Homo sapiens: one gene and its partners. The protein of the gene in region 4 interacts with the protein of the main gene of each other region in a biochemical or structural test. Each region holds a gene or a part of one and is shown on either strand. Other genes may lie near its edges. The genes, in order: RAD51AP1, ZFAND5, STK3, LRRK2, CDC42EP3, BAG2 and NDUFAF7.

What was found.
Region 1: the proteins of LRRK2 (region 4) and RAD51AP1 form a complex in vitro, tested with the Homo sapiens proteins (one large-scale study listed by BioGRID and IntAct).
Region 2: the proteins of LRRK2 (region 4) and ZFAND5 form a complex in vitro, tested with the Homo sapiens proteins (one large-scale study listed by BioGRID and IntAct).
Region 3: of the proteins of LRRK2 (region 4) and STK3, one has a biochemical effect on the other in vitro, tested with the Homo sapiens proteins (one large-scale study listed by BioGRID).
Region 5: the proteins of LRRK2 (region 4) and CDC42EP3 interact on a protein array, tested with the Homo sapiens proteins (2 studies listed by BioGRID and IntAct, with this or other methods).
Region 6: the proteins of LRRK2 (region 4) and BAG2 form a complex in vitro, tested with the Homo sapiens proteins (2 studies listed by BioGRID and IntAct, with this or other methods).
Region 7: the proteins of LRRK2 (region 4) and NDUFAF7 form a complex in vitro, tested with the Homo sapiens proteins (2 studies listed by BioGRID and IntAct, with this or other methods).

The regions. Positions count from the first base shown.
Region 1 is NC_000012.12:4,555,890-4,558,218, reverse strand, and holds part of RAD51AP1 (RAD51-associated protein 1), read right to left. Parts: intron 1,867-2,329; coding exon 1,717-1,866; coding exon of another isoform or gene 1,669-1,716; intron 1-1,668. UniProt on the Homo sapiens protein: Structure-specific DNA-binding protein involved in DNA repair by promoting RAD51-mediated homologous recombination.
Region 2 is NC_000009.12:72,358,709-72,362,208, forward strand, and holds part of ZFAND5 (AN1-type zinc finger protein 5), read right to left. Parts: intron 2,080-3,500; 5' UTR 2,071-2,079; coding exon 1,920-2,070; intron 1,514-1,919; coding exon 1,402-1,513; intron 814-1,401; coding exon 710-813; intron 1-709. UniProt on the Homo sapiens protein: Involved in protein degradation via the ubiquitin-proteasome system. May act by anchoring ubiquitinated proteins to the proteasome. Plays a role in ubiquitin-mediated protein degradation during muscle atrophy.
Region 3 is NC_000008.11:98,815,689-98,819,188, forward strand, and holds part of STK3 (serine/threonine-protein kinase 3), read right to left. Parts: intron 1-3,500. UniProt on the Homo sapiens protein: Stress-activated, pro-apoptotic kinase which, following caspase-cleavage, enters the nucleus and induces chromatin condensation followed by internucleosomal DNA fragmentation.
Region 4 is NC_000012.12:40,322,497-40,325,996, forward strand, and holds part of LRRK2 (leucine-rich repeat serine/threonine-protein kinase 2), read left to right. Parts: coding exon 1-14; intron 15-663; coding exon 664-810; intron 811-3,500. UniProt on the Homo sapiens protein: Serine/threonine-protein kinase which phosphorylates a broad range of proteins involved in multiple processes such as neuronal plasticity, innate immunity, autophagy, and vesicle trafficking.
Region 5 is NC_000002.12:37,661,643-37,665,142, forward strand, and holds part of CDC42EP3 (cdc42 effector protein 3), read right to left. Parts: intron 1-3,500.
Region 6 is NC_000006.12:57,182,326-57,185,825, reverse strand, and holds part of BAG2 (BAG family molecular chaperone regulator 2), read right to left. Parts: intron 2,049-3,500; coding exon 1,636-2,048; 3' UTR 1-1,635. UniProt on the Homo sapiens protein: Co-chaperone for HSP70 and HSC70 chaperone proteins. Acts as a nucleotide-exchange factor (NEF) promoting the release of ADP from the HSP70 and HSC70 proteins thereby triggering client/substrate protein release.
Region 7 is NC_000002.12:37,238,158-37,241,657, reverse strand, and holds part of NDUFAF7 (protein arginine methyltransferase NDUFAF7, mitochondrial), read right to left. Parts: intron 81-3,500; coding exon 1-80. UniProt on the Homo sapiens protein: Arginine methyltransferase involved in the assembly or stability of mitochondrial NADH:ubiquinone oxidoreductase complex (complex I).

The DNA of each region.
Region 1 (2,329 bases), about 36 Mb from region 4:
ATTTTATTTTAATTTACACTTCCTTAATTACCAGTGAGACTGAAACTCTTCATATTTTCTTGTTGTATTAATAGTTCTTGGGGACACTGTTATATTTATGCCTCTGGCTAATTTTACTTTTGGGGTCTTGGTGGTCTTCTCCAGTTGTATAAGATAGGTAACAAACTGGCAATCTGAGGGCCAAATCTAGCTCTCAGATATATTGTTTTGGTTCACATGGTGCTAACAACAACAACAAAAAAAATCAACTTACAAAAATTAGCAGATTTCATATTAAAATCTGGATTTCTGGCTTCTCTTGAAAACAGCAATCAGATCTAGAAATACCAAGCCCATAATCTTGCATGGAAACAATACGATGGAGCTGAGTAGCAGCTGCTTCCTTCAAAAGGGTACGCGCTCCTGAGTCCAACAAAATTCCTACCCACGCAAGTCTACTGCATGGGCCCAATTCACTCGTTTACATCACTTGCCTGACTGTCACATGCTGACTTGATAAGCACTTTGTGCTTGATGACATTAACTCTTTATCCATCATTCCACTGTTTCCTTGTATTTTTTTAATTATGCTACTTTTAAATTTCTATAGTTATATCACTCCATTTAAATTTCCTTCATTGGGGAAGCATTAATTATTTTTAGAAATATACTAAGTATTACTCTTTGAATGATATGACATCAAGTAATTAATCTTCCCTCCTTTCCTTCTCCAAAAAGTTTTTAAGTCCTCATTAAAAATCTTAGAAGTTGTAAACCAGAATGGACTTTAAAGATTACAGTTGTTCCCAATATTTCACATGATGAAATGAAGACTCTGTAAGTTAAGTAATCATGCAGCCTCACAGCTCACGCCTAAATCTATGAATAGTAGTCAGCAGGGGAGTGAGCACTGTGGACCAATCAAGAGAGGCCCCTCAAAAGAAAAACAGGAGTAGAATTGGAAGGGCTCAGGCAAGGAGAGGGGACACATGAAGAAAGACACACCAGGCAGAGGAGGATTAAGAGAGGCCCTGAGAGAGGCATACATACAACATGTTTGAGAGACAAAAAGTGTTTCAATTTCACTGAAGTGGACGGTTCATGCAGGTGGATGACAGAAAGTAAAGACAGGACTGGTTAGGAAAGGCAGCAACAATTTGGGCCTGGATTAGGGTTTTAGTAATGTCAAGAAGGGTGAAGGTCAAAGAATTCTTGAAGGATCCATGAGACTTGGCTGTGGAGCAAAAGAAAACAGAGAAGTGAAATTTGTGAAAGCAAGAGGTTGAGTTTGCTAGGGCATTTGTTAAATGCTAGAATTGCCACATATAGATCCCAAGGCTTCAGTCAGACTGTGGAGGTCAGCAGGTCCTGAGCAAAAGATTTGCTGCCAGAAATACATACTTCAGGAATCTCAAATGTTTACACCCTTTAACACTGTAATTTTCCTACTAGAAATTTTATCCTAGGAAAATAATCAGTAATATGCCCAGAGATTTCTAAAATAAGGACATTTGCACTTATTGCAATCTTATTTATAGCACTGAAAAAATAATAAACCTGGATGTCCAATAATAAGGAATGGTTAAATAAATGAATATATGCAGCAACCAGGAACTTTGGTTTTGAAGAATATGTAATAATATGGGGAAATGCTCACACATGATGTTTGTAACTAGGAAAAAAATTTACCAGTGATAATTTTCCAAGCTCCTGTCCTTGATGATAAATATGCCATACCTGGTGGGACCCATTTAGGTTTCTTGCTTTCAGCTGAAGGACTGCGTATTTCTAATGGTTTCCTAGTGGTATCTGAAGACAGAGAAACCTTTTTTGGCAAGGACTGAGATTCTGATTTGACGGCAGCTGGAGCAGAGTCCACCGAAGTCACTTATTTGAAAAATATACGTAAAAATGTTTGTCATGCAGGAAGAAAAAGTAAGTCTAGCATATATGTGTAAAAATTATAAAGTTACATAATCATATAAAAAATAAACTTATTAATCAACAAACATTTATTGAGAGCCTAAGAATAGCCATCTTTTATGAGCATTAATATGCCAGGCAGTGTGGTAGGCATATCACACACATTACCTCTAACTCTTTACAACAACTCCAATACAGATATTACTATCCCCACTCTCAGAGAAGGAAACAGAGACGTTAAGCAATCTGCCTGTAGTCTGACAGCTAGTAAGCATCTAAGCTTAGAAACCAGATTTTCCTCCAAAATCCCATCCTTGTAACTAACCATTACACAATAGTGTCTCGTGAGTATGTGTCAGTGAGATTATGTGTCAGGCTCTAGGGTTAGAAACATGGCTCCTGCTCCCAAGGACTTTAAGGTTTAGTC
Region 2 (3,500 bases), on a different chromosome or scaffold from region 4:
ACTGTATAACCACTGACAGTATTTTTTCACAACAGAAGTTTTATATTGCATTTAATCAGCACTCTGCCAAAAAAGAACAAATTGATAAAATAAGCTACGTGCACTATATAAAGCACAGAAATCTTTTTGTTCTAGGGCCTAGTACAGGTAATTCAAGTCAGTCTTCTTCCACCATCAGGGCACTTCTGGTTGTGCTATATAAGCAAAGTTTCCAAAGTCACCATATCTCATGAAAACCAAAATGCCTTTCCACACTGAGTTTCAAACTCCCACAAAATATGATAGGAATATTGTACTTCAAATAAGTTCTAGTGTTCAAATATGTTGTTCTACTTAAAAGTTTTCCACAACATTGACAATATCAAAACTAAAGTTACTGCTTTTGGTTATAAAATTATTCCTTATACCCTTGAAATTTAACTTCATCAAGTTTTTAACACATCCAATCTCCAGATTACAGACTTTGCCCATTATGCACAAGGGTAGTGCAGGGGATGAGCAGAGAAGAAACTGAGAATAAATATGACTATTTTACACTTCAAGATACTCATACTCAAGATACTTTTAAAGATAGTAGTTCTTTGCTTGGCCTATATTTTATGGCTCTCCCTCCTCTTTGGTCCTTCAATGGGAAGGAAAGAATCCCCCCACCAGCCATTTCTTGCACTATCAAATTCAGAACTGAACAAGTATTAAATGAAAAACATACCTGGCTCTGACACCTCTGTTTTCGGGGTAGTTATTTTGTCCTCTCTTGAAATGCTCATTTCTGTCATTTGCTGAGTTACAGGCAAGGCAGCCACAGGCACATTTCTATTTGAGTTCAAGCAAACAATTTTTAAAGGTGTTAAGGGTACTTCTTGAGACAATGAATAAGTTGTCAGTTCAACTTTAAATTATAGAATATTTCCAAAATGAGCAAATGGAGCTAGATAATCTAAAGTTTAAAAAAAAATTGGATGCCCAGCACAAATGGTTGAGAAAAAAGTTTGATAAATGGCTCATGAACTCGAGGCTGCATTTTGTATAGGTTACCATATTTTACAACCAGCTAGGGATTTTTAGCTGTGCCTGTAACTTGTTTAAGGGCAAAAGGGCAGCTCTGCCAAAACACCTTGTCTGGCCCAATAATATTCTACAGTCTCACTCGACAATCCCTAAACCTCAATTACAAAGAAATAAAAAAGCACAGCATTTCCAACACAGTATCCTTGAGGGGGTTAGGGAGTCAGGTGTAAGTAACACACATCTTTACTCAATGACTTAAGAGTCATGTATTAAAAGACACTGAAATCCTCGATTGCAAAGCCAAGGGTATCTATTAACTTATTATTGGACCAGTACAGACATCTTGATTTCTTCTTTGTAATATCATAAAAACTCTGAAACGTTCAATCTTACCTTGATTTTTCAGATGTGCTGCCAGCAGCACCTTCACAGTTGTTTAAGCTAGTGTCTGCTCTCTGTACAGATGCAGAATCTGAGGTAGGACTGTTGGAACCACTAGCTGTTCCTATTTAAAAAAAGGATTTGTAAGGAACCAATGAACACTACAAAAACTCACTTAGTATCAAGACGTAGTAATAAATACTTGCATTTAATTAGGTTAGTGATATAAGCATTCACTGTGCTGTAATCCTATACTTGAGTATCCAAACAAAAAATATTAAAAAGTCAATCCAATGAACACAAGTGTGAAACAAAATAACCCCAAAAAAGAAAACTGAAAAGCTATAAGATGCTTGTAGATAGTCATTCATTCCTGATCAGTCATGTCAAGCACTTGGGCTGTTGCTTGAATTTCAAGCTCTTATCAGGTGTTCTCTCCATGTGCTTTCAGCATTCTCAGCCCCAATTCTTGGTTCTGTATTTCTGTCCACCAGTTCTTTCAAATGTGTTTTTCCTTGGAAATAACTTACCCATTGGGCTCATTCTGCCACTATTTTGCTGCCTCTGAAGATGTTCTTTGTAGCAAACTGAACACATTCCATTTGTCCTAGGATTTCCATAAAAGCCACATCCTGTGCTACACAGCATGGGCCCCGGGGTCTGGTTAGTCTCCTGAGCCATATTTTTCTGCTATAGATGAAACGAAATTTCAGAAATTAGTGTTATCACCAAAATATAGTCTAATATAATCATCGGTATACCGTTGTAATTGCTACGCAAGTTTTAACAAAAGCCCAAATTCCGTTAATCATTAAAAAGGGTGGGCAGAGATAATTATCAATATTTTGTTGCCTTTATAAAAGCAAACTGTTTTAGGACCAAAAAAAAACCCAAAAAGAAATTTTATCAATTATTAGGGTATTTTTACCTATCACTATTCTTGGTTTCAATTTATGAAAAGGTCTGTTAGCTCTCAGGGTTATGTTTTAATCAATTTGGGAAACTGGTATCTTTAACTTTTCACTCTGCTGCACTACAGGCAGACCATTTCAAATGTTTTTACTTAATTGGCTAATCACAATTATCACTGAGTCTTGATATTTATAGGTAGTTCTTTAAACTGGATGAATAAAGTTTTCTTAAAACACCTGTACATATCTGGGCTTCATCAGTAATTTGACAAATCTGCTGAGGCAGAGCATCTGTACTTTTTAATGCTGAAACATCTTCATATAAGGCTGAAAAGAGAACTGGTAGCCCTTCCTGCTACCCTGGCACCAACAAGTAAATCTCTAAGAATTTAGGGTCAGCTGGTTTACGAAACTCCTTTTACGTTCTCCATTTGAAGTTTCAGAGTATGTCAAAGCCAGTGCCTAGGAACCTGCAATACACAAATTATGAACCAGATTTCTCAGCCAAAGGCACTATTAATTTTAACAAGTGCTTGTCTTCCTCATACCAGAAAATAATAAAACCGTTCCAAGCTCAAATTCAATGTATTAAAGTCAATATATACACATAACCTTTAGTAATGGTTAATATTCAATGCTGGGTTACCAGAAAAAGCTTTACATAGCAAGCATTTGTTTCCAAGGAAGATTTGCTTTTCTAAAAGTCTTGTTAAAACGCTGTGCTAAATTATTAATAAGTTTTCCTCTGGATGAGAAAATACATATTAAAGAAAAATTATTTTAAAATAAAGTTGTGGAGGGTTTTCATGTCATCTTAAACATGTATAAGCATATGTACAAAAAGCATATTTGAGAGCATTTGCTTAAAGGAAAATTCGTGTGCTGTAACTTGTGGTCAGTCATTTTTTCCAACTACATACTAGAATACACTTTTTAGTGAGTTATTAAAAAACGATGTTTTAACAAGTATTAACTACCAAAATTAGAAGATGGGAGAAGGGGACTAACCAATTTTGACCTGGCCAGACCCCTGGTAATTATTCCCCAAAACATTTTATCTTCCCTTTTGTAAGTAAAAGTGCACCATACAAATATTAAGACAATCTAGCTTGTGTGGAGTGACCAAGATCCACAACTTACTTTTAACAACAGTATTAATTTAGTTGACACTGTCTCTTTAAATATTAACTGGAATTTAGC
Region 3 (3,500 bases), on a different chromosome or scaffold from region 4:
CCACCTTTGGAGAAAGACAGGGAACTAATTCGTTATCTTGAAAACTTGTAAATAAAAGGAAAGAATCAAACATTTATCCTGTCTTTCCTTTATCAACAGTACCACTGGGTAACTAAACAGAAGATGAGGGGAAGTTACTTTTTATAAAAACATTCCAATTAATAAATGAAAGCAAAATGATGTATTTAGAATTTCATTATATTGCAACACCCACTAACCATCCACAGCCGCTAACATCACAAAAAAGAAAGACAATTAGACATTATGATATTCCCATGGTCTTGCCAAACCCCATCTATATATATATATATATCACAATGCCTAAGGGATCGAACTTGAGTCTGCTCCATCTCTGGATCCAGCTGCACGTTTGCAGAAAATACAGAAGACAAAGGAACATGTTGAACTGACCTATATTAAGCAATCAGCAAAATCCAACTCTGGGAAACTAGTACAAACAACCTGGGTTCTCCAACAGGAAAAGGAAAAGGATGGAGGACTAAACTAAAGATTAAAAGTGACAACTCATATCAAAACTGCTTTTTGGGCTGGGTGCTGTAGCTCATGCCTATAATCCCAACACTTGGGGAGGCCAAGGCAAGACCACTTGAGCCCAGGAGTTCAAGACCAGCCTAAGCAACATGGCAAGACCCCATGTCTACAAATACACAAATTACCTGGGCATGGTGGCCAATGCCTATAGTCCCAGCTCCTCAGAAGGCTGAGGCAGGAGGATCCCTTGAGCCCAGGAGGGTCAGGCTGTAGTGAGCTGAGATTGCACTACTGCACTCCAGCCTCAGTGACAGGGCAAGATCCTGTCTCAAAAAACAAACAAACAAACAAACAAACAAAACACAACCTAGAGACAGTGTTTCCCTCTTGTTGCCCAGGCTAGAGTGCAATGGTGCAATCTCAGCTCACTGCAACCTCCACCTCCTGGGTTCAAGGGATTCTCCTGCCTCAGCCTCCCGAGTAGCTGGGATTACAGGTGCCTGCCACCATGCCTAGCTAATTTTTGTATTTTTAGTAGAGATGGGGTTTTGCCATGTTGGTCAGGCTGGTCTTGATCTCCTGACCTCAGGTGATCTACCCACCTCGGCCTCCCACAGTGCTGGGATTACAGGTGTGAGCCACCGTGTCTGGCCAAAACTTACTATTTCTTAATCATCAAGACTAACCTACAGTATCTAGCAATGCACATTTGGGTTATTACTACACAAGTCAGGAAAATGATTACTTATAGGGAAAGGCCACTGTGATCTATTTCTCAACCTGAGGGGTGATTACAAAGGTATCTGCCTTATAATAATTCACCAAGCCATACATGTGTTCTGTACTAATGTTTTATTTTGCAATAAAAAGATTTTTTTTAAAATAGCAGGTTACCAGCACACCTGAACATGTCAACACCTAAAAACGGCTAGATATGTTTTCCATTCTCTACTCTAACTGAGTGAAAACAATAGGATAAAAATAGAAATCAGGCCGGGCATGGCGGCTCATGCCTTTAATCCCAGCACTTTGGGAAGCCGAGGTGGGTGGATCACCTGAGGTCAGTAGTTCGAGACCAGACAGGCCAATATGGTGAAACCCCATCTCTACTAAAAATACAAAAATTAGCTGGGTGTGGTGGCACACGCCCGTAGTCCCAGCGGCTTGGGAGGCTGAGGCAGGAGAATTGCTTGAACCTATAAGGCGGAGGTTGCAGTGAGCCAAGATTGCACCATTGCATTCCAGCCTGGGCGACAGAGCAAGACTCCATCTCAAAAAAAAAAAAAAAATAGAAATCAGTGTGCATCATTTCCTCCCTACCCACTTCCTCTTCTAAAGGAACCACTTAATATCACATTTTAGGCCAATCAGATTCACTTTCTTGGGATTATGAAATTCCAAGAAAGAGACTATAGATATCCAAACCTGTTCTCCCGGTCTTTCCTCATTCCCCAAGTTGTTTCAATTCAAAACATAGGAGCCAGGATTGATTCTTTTTTTCCCCTCATTCCCCACATCTAGTCTATCAGCAAGTCCTTCATTTATAACTCCAAAATATCGCAAATCTCTCAACTTCTATCTCCACTGACTCTACCATCTCAAATCACAAACTATTCAAATAGTTTCCTAACTTGTTTCTCTTTTATTCTTAACCCTCTACAATCTACTCTACCCAAAGCAGCCAAAAGGATGTTTTAAAAACATAAACTGCTTAAAAACCTTTAATGACAGCACACAGAGCTCTGACTTAAATCCAAATTCCTTTCCATGGCCGGCATCATTGAATCCGTGCCCATCTCTCTGAGCTCATCTCTAGCCACTGTCCTCTTCTCCAATCCAGGCACACTGGTGTCATTTCAATTCCTCCCACACATTAAGCTCTTTCCCACCTCCAGGCCTTCTCATAGCTTTCCCCCCTGCCTGGAATACTTTTCCCTTGCTACTCACATGGATAACTTCTCAATGTCAGGTTACAACTTAAATATCACCTTCTCAGAGAAGCCTCTGCCAACTGCCCTATTAAGCAGGTTTCACCATCTTTCTCTACACACTACTTATATCTTTCATAGCTCAAGCTACAACAAGAGTGTATGTTATATGAGGGCAAAGAACCCACCTGTTTCATTCACCAATGAGCATCTGGAATGTGGAAAACAATTAATAATTACTGAATGTATGAATAAATGAGGAAATGAATGAAGTAAAGGCCGAATGCCAATTTTGCCATGAGTAGTGATCAGTAAGTAAAGAAAGCCAGTTTTCAGAAAGAACAGAGCAACACAACAGAGAACAGGAGACTATGTGGCTTGGTTCCATAAACAGAGTCAAGAAAATTAGCTGCCAATTATAAATTATAAATGTGTGTGTGTGTGTGTGTGTGTGTGTGTGTGTGTATCAAGATAGCAGAAACATCTGAAAAATTTACTCAATTCACCTCTATACTAAGATGTCTGGTATTATATAAATCTATAAACTAATTCAGAACTCAAAATAATACTACCTAAACTAATTATCATTAATGTTAACACTTTGTAATTCTCATTTTGCTATGAGTCATTTTTCAAGATATACTCCTATGATGTACTTTCAGAAATTCAAGGTAATCTTCATGTCGATATTCACGGTATGTATGCAAACAATGAATTTTTTTTGTTGTTTTTTTGAGACGGAGTCTCTGTCGCCCAGGCTGGAGTTCGGTGGCGCAATCTCGGCTCACTGCAAGCTCCGCCTCCCAAGTTCACACGATTCTCCTGCCTCAGCCTCCCAAGTAGCTGGGACTACAGATGCCCGCCACCATGCCCGGCTAATTTTTTGTATTTTGTTTAGTAGAGACAGGGTTTCACCATGTTAGCCAGGATGGTCTCGATCTCCTGACCTCATGATCTGCCCACCTCAGCCTCCCAAAGTGCTGGGATTACAGGCGTGAGCCACCGTGCCCAGCCCAATGAACGTTTTTGAGACAGGGTCTTGCTCTGTTGCCCAGGATGGAATGCATCCACACAATCATG
Region 4 (3,500 bases):
GAAAGCAGAGGAAGGTATGTTTTGATACAACTTACAAATGCTTTTAAGTGATCCTTCAATACTTATGAAGTGACTTTTAATAAATGTAAATATTCTTATCCATAAGGGATGAGTTGAAAAATAGTATATTCAATTATAGGGACAGTTCAGAAAACTGAATTATATTTATTACCAATAAAATCTTGTATTCTAGATTCAGAAAATGTTGATTTGAGGGTTTGAATGCTGGCTTATTGAGCAACATAACCTCATCTGTGAAACCGGAATACCAACCACATCTATCTCATAGAACTGTTATAAAGATTCAAATAGACAATACATGGACCTAATTTACCAACATGTCTGCCATATAATAACAGCTGCAGCTTCATGAATGTGGCAAAAGCAGAGAGTAGATAACTTTCTAGTCAGATGTCTGGTAGTCTGCAGCAGTTCAGAATTCTACAAGTGAACGTAGGAATAAGTTTTTAAAATTCCAAGTAGATAGATACTAAGTGAATCTTTAAAATGTTCTCAAATTTCCTAGAGAAATATAGGATTGGTTAGAAAGGGAGGGATTAGAAATTATAGAAAATATTCCATTATTTTTTCACATCAAAACCACAAATTTATGTATCTCCTTAAATGTTGTTTTTATTTAAAAAATGTTTTATTACTTCTCAGGAGATCTCTTAGTAAATCCAGATCAACCAAGGCTCACCATTCCAATATCTCAGATTGCCCCTGACTTGATTTTGGCTGACCTGCCTAGAAATATTATGTTGAATAATGATGAGTTGGAATTTGAACAAGCTCCAGAGTTTCTCCTAGGTAATTCTTTTTGTTAATTTGAGAATAAAAATTAGGATGTAATTTTCTCCTTATAATTTAGAAAATAGATTTCATAATTATATTGTCATAGATTTTACTGTCTTCATATATTTGTTATAATTTTTGTATTTGGAATGATATATTTTAAAGGAATATAATATTACAGATCTGGAATTTGTTTTGCACATAATCATGTAGACTAGGATCAAGATGAGGATGAGATTATCATGGAAGCAGAAATATTTATGAAATATATCTTTGTATTTGCCTTAATTGCCAGGGATATGGGAGGCAAATAAGACAGTTTTCAGGTGAGTTAAGTGAAGCAGCCATATTTTATAAAATGACAGAATAGGTAAAGGAAGCACACCTCAGTGTAGCCATAGCAGGGGTTTTATGACTCAGTGTGACAATGCTGAATTCTCATAGAAATATTCATTAAAAGCCTTGAAATTAAAGTCAAAAGTGTTACATGGTGACATACTCAAATACTTTTTTTTTTTTTTTTGATATGCTGAACAATTTACATTTCTTGGTTCCGTGAATTCAATCAGTGATTTTCAGTAGAGTATGATGGAAATCATTGAATTCATGTAGCATGTTTAGGTGCTCATTGAGAAAAGGTGAAGTCATGGTAACCATGTTTCAATATTCTCATTTGTATCTTGACTTCCTGCACATGGATTTTTGGGCCTAAAAGATGTTTTTAAAACATGCTCATACACTTCAGAAGATGAAAAGTGTATGCATTATAACTACTTTGGGAAAGAAACAGTCAACATATGTTACTGTATGTCATTCTGTAGATTACATGTGTGGTTTCTCATGTCTCTCAGAATAAAAGCTAATGTCTTTACAAGACCTGCGATGCTGTGATCTGTCTGGCTCCTCGGTTATCATTTTTAAAAAAAGATATACTTTGTACAAATTTTTTTAATTGACAAGTAAAAATTGTATATATTTATGGTGTACAACATGATGTTTTGATATATGTATATGTTGTGGAATGGAGAAGTTTAGCTATTTAACATATACATTATCTCAAATATTTATGTGGTGAGAACTATTAAAATCTACTCTCATAGCAATTTACAAGTATACAGTATGTTATTATTAACTGTAGGCTGACATACTCAAGTTTTAAACATTCCTGAGAGTCATTGGGACAACTATGAAATGCATTAGATTGATTTAATATAAAGCATTTGAAGACAATTTTGACCTTACTTTGTTTAGTTTTTGTTGTTGTTGTGTGTATACATTTAATTTTAATCAAATTACCCCAGAAATAATGCCTAAGATCTGTCAGTCAGGACATAATATTATTAGCAAAAAGTTGTCCAAAATTTGAGACATGATATTTAAAGCTAAATAAACTCCTTTATACCCCTCTTATTGGCATTGATTGGGAAGTTTAGGTTGAATTTAAATGCTTTGGAACTCAGGAAGTTAATGTATTAGTAATAGTGGGTTAACATAAAATGCTGAATTGTCCTTGCTGAATCCTACATCTTAACCCCAGACTTCAAGGTATACAGGAAAGTACCAGACATGGTGCATCCTTCCTCTGAAGAAATCCCAAACTGTCAGACACAGATCCCTAAAATATTTCTTTTTCCTGCATTAAAATGTGTTTCAGATGAATGGACACGTTTTGAGTAGTGTATGTGGAAACGTCATTTACAAAGTCTGTTTAGTTGGCCAGGTGTAGTAGCTCACTCCTGTAATCCCAGCACTTTGGGAGGCCGAGGTGGGTGTATCACGAGGTCAGGAGTTGAAGACCAGCCTGACCAAGATGGTGAAACCTCATCTCTACTAAAAATACAAAAAAATTAACTGGGTGTGGTGGTGGGCATCTGTAATCTCAGCTACTCGGGAGGCTGAGGCAGAGAATTGCTTGAACCTGGGAGGCGGAGGTTGCAGTGAGCCGAGGTTGTGCCACTGCACTCCAGCCTAGGCGACAGAGCGTCTCAAAACAAAACAAAACAAAAAACAAAAAAGCAAAGTCTGTTTAGCTACCCATATAGGAAAATGTTTGTGATTACTCTCCCTTCTCTAGACCCATGTCCCATAAATCCATAAATCCCATGTTCATTTACAGAAAGCAGTCTAGATAGGAGTTTCTCAGTCTTTGAGCTGTTGCCATTTTGGCTTGGATAACTAACTCTTTCTTATCGAGGGTCATCCTGTGCACTGCAGAATGTTTGGCAGCATCTCTGTCTATCCACTAGATGTCAGTAGTATCTCCCCTTCCCTCAGATGTGACAATCAAAAATGTCTCCGGATGTTGCCAAAGATAAGGGGTGGGGTTGAATACCAGTGATTTAAACAAATTAGGTGTATCCTTCTAAAAACATTTTACAGGTAGCGACTCCAGCATCTTTATATTAGAGTAATCTGGAGAAGGTTATGCCTCTCTCAATTTTCCCTCTTTCCATTTTTATTTGTAGGGCAGCAATGCATTCAGGCTTTTGGTAACTCTTTTTCCCAAGATAGCAGTAACTATTATGCAGTGAGTAATACGACCCACCTTAATAGATATGAATAGACTTGTTTTGTGAATATATTTTAAAATATAAATGTATGGGATTCTGTTCATGCGTCTGAGAAGCCACAGGGTACATTTCCTCTTTGTGGAGCTATTTATTTTTCTGGAGAGCCAAGACAGGTATTTCCACTTCAGTGGTGTG
Region 5 (3,500 bases), on a different chromosome or scaffold from region 4:
ATAAACTGGACGGCAAGGCTACCGGGAGCTGACAGCACGAGGAGGTGGCTGAAAAAGTCATAGCCATCTGACGGACTCTGGACAGACCCCACCAGAATTAGTGATGTATGAGAGAAGAGAAAAAACAAAAGGGCATGTTGTTATTTTCTTAAATACGTGATAAGTAGGGCCAATCTCTCTCCTTTTTAACCAAAGAAATTATGTTATTATCTGTTTATATATCAGGCTTAAGATTTTCTTTTCCTTGGCTTAAAAAAAAGTTCGACAGAGCTGGGCCTAGGAGGAAGATTCATGCTCTGTGTCACTTAAACACTTAAGGCCTTGGTTTTATCATGTCAGAATGAGACTGGGGCTGAGATAAGGTCCCTTCCATCTGTCAAATGGTAGGGCTCTGTGATTCTATTTGCAGAAACATCTAGCGTCTAGGAAGTTTCCAAAAAAGAAAAAAAAAAAGTAATGTTTTTAAGGAAAGTAAGACTAGCCTTAGAATCAAAATACTTTTTACCAGCGAATACAATTTTCATCACCCTTTCCCATCCTTCCTGGTATTAAATTAAGGGTCCTGAGCCATGTAGTGACTCCCTTTGGGAGCTTCAGTGTCCCCATCTGTGAAGTGCAAATGGCAAAGGTGGGAGTCTTCCTGGGTAACAACGAGCATAAAGTGCTTGGCAAAGCACCTGGCAGGCAATGAGCCCATATCAATGGAAGGGGTAATGTTCATTATAAATTACCCCAAAAAGCTGGAGCTGCATAAGGAAGAAGATGAGCTGGAAGCTCATGGTGGGGATTCCTTTTAACCTTACTCCTTTTAGACCTTGGGATCTGGCCACCTAAACTGATTGTTTTAAATACAGTGTGAAAAACTCCCAAATGTTCTGGGTTCAATAGTCTAATTCCCCATTCTGAAAAAAGAACGGAATTTGAAAGAAGTCCCTGCTTTACTCCCTGCACCACCCTGAGAGACCTCTCTCTGAACCTCACTCCCCCAGGCTGGCAAGTAAAGCACCACCATCCCAGGGTGAGCCCACAAGGAATATAAAACAAATCCCCATCACCAGCATAAACTTACACTAAACTTAATAGAAGGCCAAAAATCAACACTCTTTAGGAAGACATTTCATTCTGAAGCCGTCTGAGAGCAAGAAAACAGGCTCTAGTTGGTGCTGCGACATGCACAGAGTGAGCCATGTGCCTCTCGCCAGTTCAACCCATGGGAAGCCAGCTTTAGAAAGCCTTTCACAGTCAGGTGCGGTGGCTCACACCTGTGATCCCAGCACTTTGGGAGGCCGAGGCGGGCGGATCGCCTGAGGTTAGGAGTTCGTGACCAGTCTGGCCAACACGGTGAAAGCCAGTCTCTACTAAAGATACAAAAATTAGCTGGGTGTGGTGGCGGGTGCCTGTAATCCCAGCTACTCATGAGGCTGAGGCAGGAGAATCTCTTGAACCCGGGAGGCAGAGGTTGTAGTAAGCCAAGACTGTGCCACTGCACTCTGGCCTGGGCAACTGAGTGAGTGAAACTCGGTCTCAAAAACAAAACAAAACAAAACAAAACAAAAAAAACAAACCAACCTTCCATGTGCCTCCCCAGCCCCTGGCTGGTCCCTCATGTGTTCAACAACAAACATCCATGGAGGGCCTACTAAGTGCCAGGCACTATTCTAGAAGTTGAGGCCGCAGCAATGATGCACTCCACTGTGGAGAGACTGACGCTAATATAACAAATAAATAAATGGCTCATGTTTATTTATTCGTTAATGGCTGGCGAGAGGTCTAGGCAGCAATAGGAAATACAAGGACCCTTACTCTGTGCTCTAAGTGGACACATGGGTGCCAAGTTGCCTCAGTCACTCCCAGGGCACGAGAAAGCATTGGTGGGGGTTGCCAATCTCTCCGCGGAGATCTTGAGAAGGTTCCAGCAGGGGCTTGACCTATTTCCACAGGGCCCGCAGATGATCTCTATCACCACAACCAAATGACTGGGGTGACTCCCCTTGCATTTGAATGTTCTGTAGCCTGGGAAGGAGTAACTTTACTACAGCAGGACTTAAAAATAAGCTAGTGTGGTGGTTAATACTGAGTGTCGACTTGATGGAAGGATGCAAAGTATTGTTCCTGGGTGTGTCTGTGAGGGTGTTGCCAAAGGAGATTAACATTTGAGTCGGTGAATTGGGAGACACAGACCCATCCTCAATCTGGGTGGGCACCATCTAATCAGCTGCCAGCGTGGCTAGGATAAAAGCAGGCAGAGGAGGCCGGGCGCGGTGGCTCATGCCTGTAATCCCAGCACTTTGGGAGGCTGAGGCGGGCAGATCATGAGATCAGGAGATGGAAACCATCCTGGCTAAGGCGGTGAAGCCCCGTCTCTATTAAACATACAAAAAATTAGCCGGTCGTTGTGGAGGGTGCCTGTAGTCCCAGCTACTTGGGAGGCTGAGGCAGGAGAATGGCGTGAACCTGGGAGGCGGAGCTTGCAGTGAGCCGAGACTGCGCCACTGCACTCCAGCCTGGGCGACAGAGTGAGACTCCATCTCAAAACAAAACAAAACAAAACAAGCAGGCAGAGGAACGTGGAAGGACTAGACTTTCTGAGTCTTCTGGCCTTCATTTTTCTCCCGTGCTGGATGCTTCCTGCCCTCACACATCAGACTCCAAGTTCTTCAGTTTTTGGACCTGGACTTACACCAGTGGTTTGCCAGAAGGCTCTCAGGCCTTTGGTCACAGACTGAAGGCTGCACTGTTGGCTTCCCTATTTTTGAGGTTTTGGGACTTGGACTAACTTCCTTGTTCCTCAGCTTGCAGACAGCCTATTATGGGATTTCACCTTATGATCATGTGAGTCAACACTCCTTAATAAACTCCCCTTTATATATACATCTATCCTGTTAGTCTTGTCCCTCTAGAGAACCCTGACTAATACAGCAAGTAAGCGACAAAGATTTCTGACCTGACAACAACTGAGGAGATATGCTACAGAAAGAATCAGATAGTATAGCAAGGGCTATACTGCCCACTTTGTCATTAAGTCCTACTGCAGCAAAGATGAATGACAAGATAAATGAGATTCAGTCCCTATCCTTGAGGAGCCGGTAGTCTAATTAGGCAGGCACTTGCGTCAATCAGGAACATGGATGGAGTTGGAGGCCATTAGTCTTAGCAAACTGACGCAGGAGCAGAAAACCAAATACCGCATGTGCTCACTTGTAAGTGGGAGCTAAATGAGAACAAATGGACACAAAGAGGGAAACAACAGACACTGGGGCCTAATTGAGGGGGAAGGGCGGGAGGAGGGAGAGGATCAGAAAGACTAATGATCAGGTACTATGCTTAGTACCTAGGTGATGAAATGATCTGTACATCAAAACCCCGTGACATGAGTTTACCTCCGTAACAAACCTGCACATGTAGCCCCGGACCTAAAAGTTAGGCCTATTACTGGATTTCACCTTATGATCATGTGAGTCAACATTCCTTAATAAACTCCCCTTTATATATATATAAAG
Region 6 (3,500 bases), on a different chromosome or scaffold from region 4:
AGAGTGGAAGGGATTTACGGATGCTGACAATACTTGAGAACCTGAAGAAAACATGACTATCCATTTCTTAATTTTCAAAAAGCTGGTCAAGAAAAAAATGATGCACACAAAAAATCATCTCACAGTCTGATGACAGCAAATCAGTCTGCTAACAAACCAAGTGGCTCTGCCATAGATAGAATTAATGTTTCCCATGAAATGCAAAGATTTAAATAAGGCAGAGTTGGAGCTGGCAAAGGAAGTAACATGAATGTCTTCAGATTGTAACTGCTTTTTATAAAGAGACTAACTTGGCATTTTTGTAGAGAAAATGAAGTTTGATATTGCTTGCATTGAGAGATATATACATACATAAAGTCAGTTTGGATCTTGATTTGGTTTTTCAGTGTGAAGAATACCTACATTCAAATAAAAATTGATGTGTTCATTTCAAAATAGTATCCAGGGAAGTTGTTGTGGTTTTTGTATATCAATAGGACTAGTTACTTTGAACAAATAAGTGTTCTCTAGTTGCTTCACACTTTATCAGATAAAAGAAGAATCAACACACTGGTCAACCTTTTTAGTAAACAAAATGCAAACTAGGTATTAATGCTCAGTGCTGGAAATATTTCAGTGAAATAGCTATATTTTAATTACTGAAAAAAGTATAAATTGCTGTAACCTTTATACAAAAAAAGTTTAATATGTGTGAGGCCATGAAAACGTCTATATCCTTTGACCCAATATAATTCACTGCTGGGCCTTTATACAGAGAAAAACAAAAATGAAAGAAGGAAAAAGTCCTGTGTACAAAAATATGTTGCAGTAATAGCAACAAGTTGGAAACAACCTAAATGTCCATAAAAGAGGAATGGATAAAGATATAACTACACAAAATAGAGCTCATTAAGTTGACAATTAAGCAGACTTTATATCAGCATCTAACTTTTTTAAAAAAAGGCAAGTTACAATATAGGAATTTTAGAGAATTGATGCATTTGAGAAAAGATGAAGCAGATAGATATATAATTGTTCACAGTGGTAAATTATAGGTGGTTTTCTCACATTTTATGTCAGTTTCTTGTATATCAAAAAATACATTCATATTATGAGACACAGGAATCTTTACATCCAAAATAATTTGATACAGATGCCTTAACATTGCTGAATGAGACAACTTTGGAAAGATTCTTGTTTTGTGATTCCTTTTTACCCTCTAAGCACAGTGCTTTGTTAACACTGTGTGTGTAGTAAATGTGTGTGCTGCTTAAGGTAAAGAATTTCTAGTAAACTAAATGCCCAAGGTGACTGCGTGATTCCATGCCAGACAGGAAAAAGCAGTCATGCTTTTTGCCCCTAGCTGAACGTTTGTTTTCCCCACAAACTATGTATTCATCCACAGAATAGTGAAATATGCTAGATCCTAGTACAAGACAAGAATTCAATCTAAAAAATCTCTAGATAGATAATTAAAATATTGCTAGTTTTGTTATTCACAAAACTGAAGATACTTGATGGAATATTTTCCTCATCTGAAACAACTATCAGTGTCAACTAAGTGGTTATACCTAACAAAGAACTAGTTATCAATTAAAATAGTATTTTATCATTTTTACACCTTGTGTATTGTGTAAATGCTCTTAGGTTTGAAGACTAATTGAATCTGCTTTCAGCATTTTGTTGCAGAGTTTTGGAACCAGCTCCTTTAGAATGCTCTAATAGCTTGATGGCCTTGTCAGAGTTTTCAATATTTCTAAGCAGAGTCTCTAATCTTCTCTTAATTTTCTTCTGATCTTCAAGAGCACAGCCAATTACTATGGATTGAAACTTCTGATCAACTGGCCCATGTGGCACCTCAGATGAACATGCACTGTAGAGCGACATTAAATGACTCTTGGCATTTCCCAAATCATCCAGAAACTTATTGACCACCTCATCAATAATCCTTGTGGCATGCTTTAGGGATTCTTGCTGCTGGGGGTTTCTAATTGTTTCTACTGACACTTCAACGGTGAGAGTTCTTCCCATCAAACGGTTTGCAGTCAGATTTAATTCTTCTCTTTCTCCTAAAAATCAATATGAGATGTAAACTTATCTGTGTCAAAAACATTAAGGCATTTGTTTGTGACTAAATTTATTATTTTCTTTACCTCTGCCATGAAATTTTTTTAGAGATAAAAGCTGAAACTATAGCATGTAAGATTAACTGATGAAATGTATTAGATTACAGAAAGAGGTTGTAGAATACCACTTCCTGACAATCTGCATATATGGGATACCAGATGACTTCTCAAATTGGCATGTCTGCAAAAGTTTGGGTAGGTATGCATTTGTAACTGGGATGGAGATCAAGTCTTAACACTGTGAGCAGTAAGCACATATAGGGTTTATGCTGGGTAGAGCTCCAGAGATCAGATGTCCCAGATCTCTCCAGAACGACATGTGCATTTATCAGAATACAATGCCCCAAATTTTGGTTGAGAAAATGTAGCCACGATAGAAGATAAGCTGTCTTCTGTCGTCAATACTAGGCACTGACTTCATCCTTCTCCAGATAGAAGCAGGACAGTGGTCTAAAGTCTTGGCCAGCACGAGGAGCTCTATCAACATTTCATTATTTATATGAGAAAGTCAGCAAGCTCCTGCTTCTGTAACTTCCTAATTCATTGATCTTTGGGCAGGATAGCGTAGAGACTAGATCATGGCCTACCTATAGATGTGTAACAGTTTTGATCTGGATTTAGGTTGCTTACTTACCTCACCAGCCACTTGGCCCAGTACCATGTGGCCTGTGTGGCACCAAAGGAGCCCAAGTAGGAAGTCCAGTGCCAATAAAAGAAAATCAGAAGTGACCTATTCCTATTTCATGTTCTTCACATGAAAATGACAGCACAGGTTAGGCAGATGTCACATGCCTGTAATCCCAGCACTTTGGGAGGCTGAGGCAGGCGGATCACCTGAGGTCAGGAGTTTGAGACCAGCTTGGCCAACATGGTGAAACCCTGTCTTTACTAAAAATATAAAAATTAGCCAGGCGTGGTGGCACGTGCCTGTAATCCCAGCTACTCGGGAGGCTGAGGCAGGAGAATCGCTTCAACCCAGGAGGCAGAGGTTGCAGTGAGCCAAGATCGCGCCATTGCACTCCAGCCTGGGTGACGAGTAAAACTCCATCTCAAAAAAAGAAAAAAGAAAATGACAGCACATTTTTACATTCATGCCTTTTATTGGTCCTACAAGTTTCCTCATTTTCTCTGCATTTTGTCCCTTCTCTTTATGTTGTACCTCAATTCATCTTTTTTTTTTTTTTTTTTTTGGTCTCTACTTCTCTGCTTCCACTCTCTCACCCTCTTCCTCTGCTTTTTTAATCTCTTGCAGTCCAGTAACTTGTGAGGAACTGAAGTTAGGACTGTGAACCTGGGATAAAACACATGGCCTTACTGCTTGGGGCCAGCTTTTCTGAGCTTGCAGGCTTTTTCCTATCTCTCCTAGCCAGGGGCTTGGGGTAGAGAGCATGCTGG
Region 7 (3,500 bases), on a different chromosome or scaffold from region 4:
TCACTTAATTTTTGGCTTACCTCTACCAGATGTACTGAAATGTCACAATTTTTCAGCACAGATCCAAGTTGAGTGAACACCTAAATACCAAAAGAAGAAAAAAAAATACAATGTGTTAAGTAGGTTTTAAGTTTCCTAATCATTTACATCAATGATTTAGTCATGTCACAATAGAGGTAATATTTCAGAGAGATGTGTTCCTTACCCAAGCCACTCTCCAGCAGTCTATAAGAATCCTAACCTACTAGTTATTAAGCATAATCTAAATAAGAAATGAACAATGCACAATTTGGTTTCCTAATGATAAATTATGATTAACAAATGAAAATAAAAGATTTGGCATCTGATAAAAACAATGATTCAGATTATGGAGTCTAAAAAAAGACCAAGGAAATAAAATGTACACAGCCTTGATTTGATAACATCTCTAGGTCTAGGAAGTAATCTCATCTTTGAGATGATGAGAACTCTAACCTCAAAGAACCAAATCTGAATGGTACTGAAAACCTGACTGCTTAACTCGGGGGTCTGCCACATTTTCAATCTATATTTAGCTACACATTTTTTCACTGTTGTAAACATGCAAGGGAAAAAGGAAAATACTAATATTTTACCAATCTTTTAAGGCTAAAAAATCAATAGCAAAAGCATAAAGTGTATCAACATTATTTTTCATTTGAATTTAATTTCTACTGGTGATCTGCCTCCAATTAATACTTTTGAGATATGAATATGCACATCCAGACTGATAATATGAACAAGATGATTTTTCCAAATTTAGTTTTGAGATCGAAATACAAATGGAAAAACTTCCCAGGAGAAATTCCTTCAGAAGGTAACATCAAAAATAAAACAGGTCTGACACTTCTCTGGCTATTTGCTTTACAACCCTTTAAATTCTTTGGCTTTTAGGACTTCTTATGACTCAGTCTGGAAAAGCATCCTTCATACATTTTAAGGGCTCTGGAATCAACTTTTAAAGTACTTGAACAAGAGAATATGATTTGAGGTCCTTATTAAATATTTTATATTCAAATGACCTTGCTGAAAAACATAAAATAGAGCCCTGGAAATTTAAATTCGTGATTTTGTTTTCTTTCTTCACCCAAATAATCAAGATTCTTATTTGTCATATGTTTATATATTTTATATATTTTTTAAATCCTTTAATTTCTAATTTAAAGCAAAAACCATAAAGCATCAAGAAATTTAAATTTATATTGAGTATGTGTTGGTGTTTTTTGGTTTTTTTTTTGAGACAGGGTCTCACTTTGTTACTCAGAGGCATAATCACAGCTCACTGCAGCCTCAACCTCCTGGGCTCAAGCAATCCTCCCATCTCAGCCCCTCAACTAGCTTCGACCACAGACGCATGCTACCACGACTGGGTAATTTTTGTATTTTTTGTAGAGATGGAGTTTCACCGTATTGCCCAAGCTGATCTTGAACTTTGGGAGCCTCGAACTCCCAAAGTGCTGCGATTACAGGCATGGGCCACTGCGCCCAGCCATGTTTGTTTTTTACATTGAATTGTCAAGTACATATAAAATAAACTCAAAAACACTAATGAGTTCCAAAATACTAAAAACTACAAAAGTTTAATAAATACTATTACTTATCAGGTACTATAAACAACTGTCCTCCTTTTTAATGTTTTCATAAAATAGTACGTAGACTGATAGAAACAATGATACAAGAGAGAATATCTACCATAAATGGGACATGACCTTATCTCCAAAGCCCCTGTGGACTCCCTCTACCCTTGGAAGTCACCACCATTCTGAATCTTGAGTTAATAACACCCTGACTTTTCTTTATAAATGTTACTAAATATATTTTTATCACCAAATACATATTGTTTAATGTTGACTATTTTTTGGATTTTATATAAATACAATCATATGATACGAACTCTTGCAAACTGCTACTTTCACACATCTTGTTTCATGTTGAACACTGTTATATTCCACTGTGATTTCACGCATTCTTGCAGTACTTCGTATTCCACTGTATGACTATACCACAATTAACTGATTCATTTACCCCCCGATGGGCATTTGTGCTGTTATTTTCCGCTATTTTATACAATGCTGCTATCTTCTTGTATGTGTCTCCTGGTACACATATACACTAGTTTCTCTAGGGTATATCACTAGCAGTAAAATTGCTGGGTCATACAATATAAGAAACTTTGATGTTAATAGATAATGGCCAATAGCTTTTCAAAAAGGTTGTACAAGGCTGGGTACGGGGGCTCATGCCTGTAATCCCAGCACTCTGGGAGGCCGAGGCAGGCGGACCACTTCAAGCCAAGAGTTCAAGATCAGCCTGGCCAGCATGGTAAAACCCCTTCTCTACTAAAAATAAAAAAATTAGCCGGGTGTAGTGATCCACGCCTATTATCCCTGCTACTCAAGAGGCTGAGGGACAAGAATCGCCTGAACCTGGGAGGCAGAGGTTGCAGTGAGCCAAGATCGTACCACTGCACTCCAGCCTGAGTGACAAAGTGAGACTGTGTCTCAAAAAAAAAAAAAAAAAAGAGAAAGAAAAAAGGATGTACTAAATTATAGTTTTACAAGCAGTATATGAGAGTTGCCATTGATCCACAAATCCACATCTTCACCAATACTTGGTGTTGACAGACTTTTAGCTTTTTTTTCTAATCTGGCAAGGGTTACAGTAGTATCTCATTGTGATTTTAATTTTCATCTTCCTGACTACCAATGTGACTAATCTTTTTTTTTTTTTTTTTGCTTTTTTAGCCGTTTGTATTTTCCTCTTTTATGAATGGACTTGTTCACATCTTTGGCCTGATTTTTCTCAAGTTATCTGTCTTCTTACTGACCTAAAGGAGTTATTTAAATAATTCTAACTACTAGTTCTCTGTTGGTTACGTGTTACAAATAACTTCTCCCACTCTGTGGCTTGTCTAATCACTCTCTTAATGGGGTCTCTGAAGAACAAAAAGCTGCTAGTTTATTTGTAGAGCAAGAAGTTTTTAATTTTAATGTAAGAAATGAAATATTAATCTTTTGCTTTATGCCTTCTGCTTTTTTTTTTTTTAATATAAAAAGAGACGAGGTCTTGCTTTGTTGGCCAGGTTGGTCTTGAACTCTTGGCCTCAAGCAATCCTCCCACCTTGGCCCCCCAAAGTGCTACGATTACAGGCATGAGCCACTTTGCCCAGCCTAAACTTTTTTTTTTTTTTGAGACGGAGTCTCGCTCTGTCACCAGGCTGGAGTGCAATGGCGCAATCTCAGCTCTGCAATCAATCACTGCAGCAATCACTGCAACCTCTGCCTCCTGGGTTCAAGCGATTCCCTGCCTCAGCCTCCTGAGTAGCTGGATTACAGATGCACACCACCATGCCCAGCTAATTTTTGTATTTTTACTAGAGACGGGGTTTCACTATGTTGGTCAGGCTGGTCTCGAACTCCTGACCTTGTGATCTGCCCACCTTGGCCTCTCAAAGTGCTAGGATTGAGCCACCATGCCTGGCC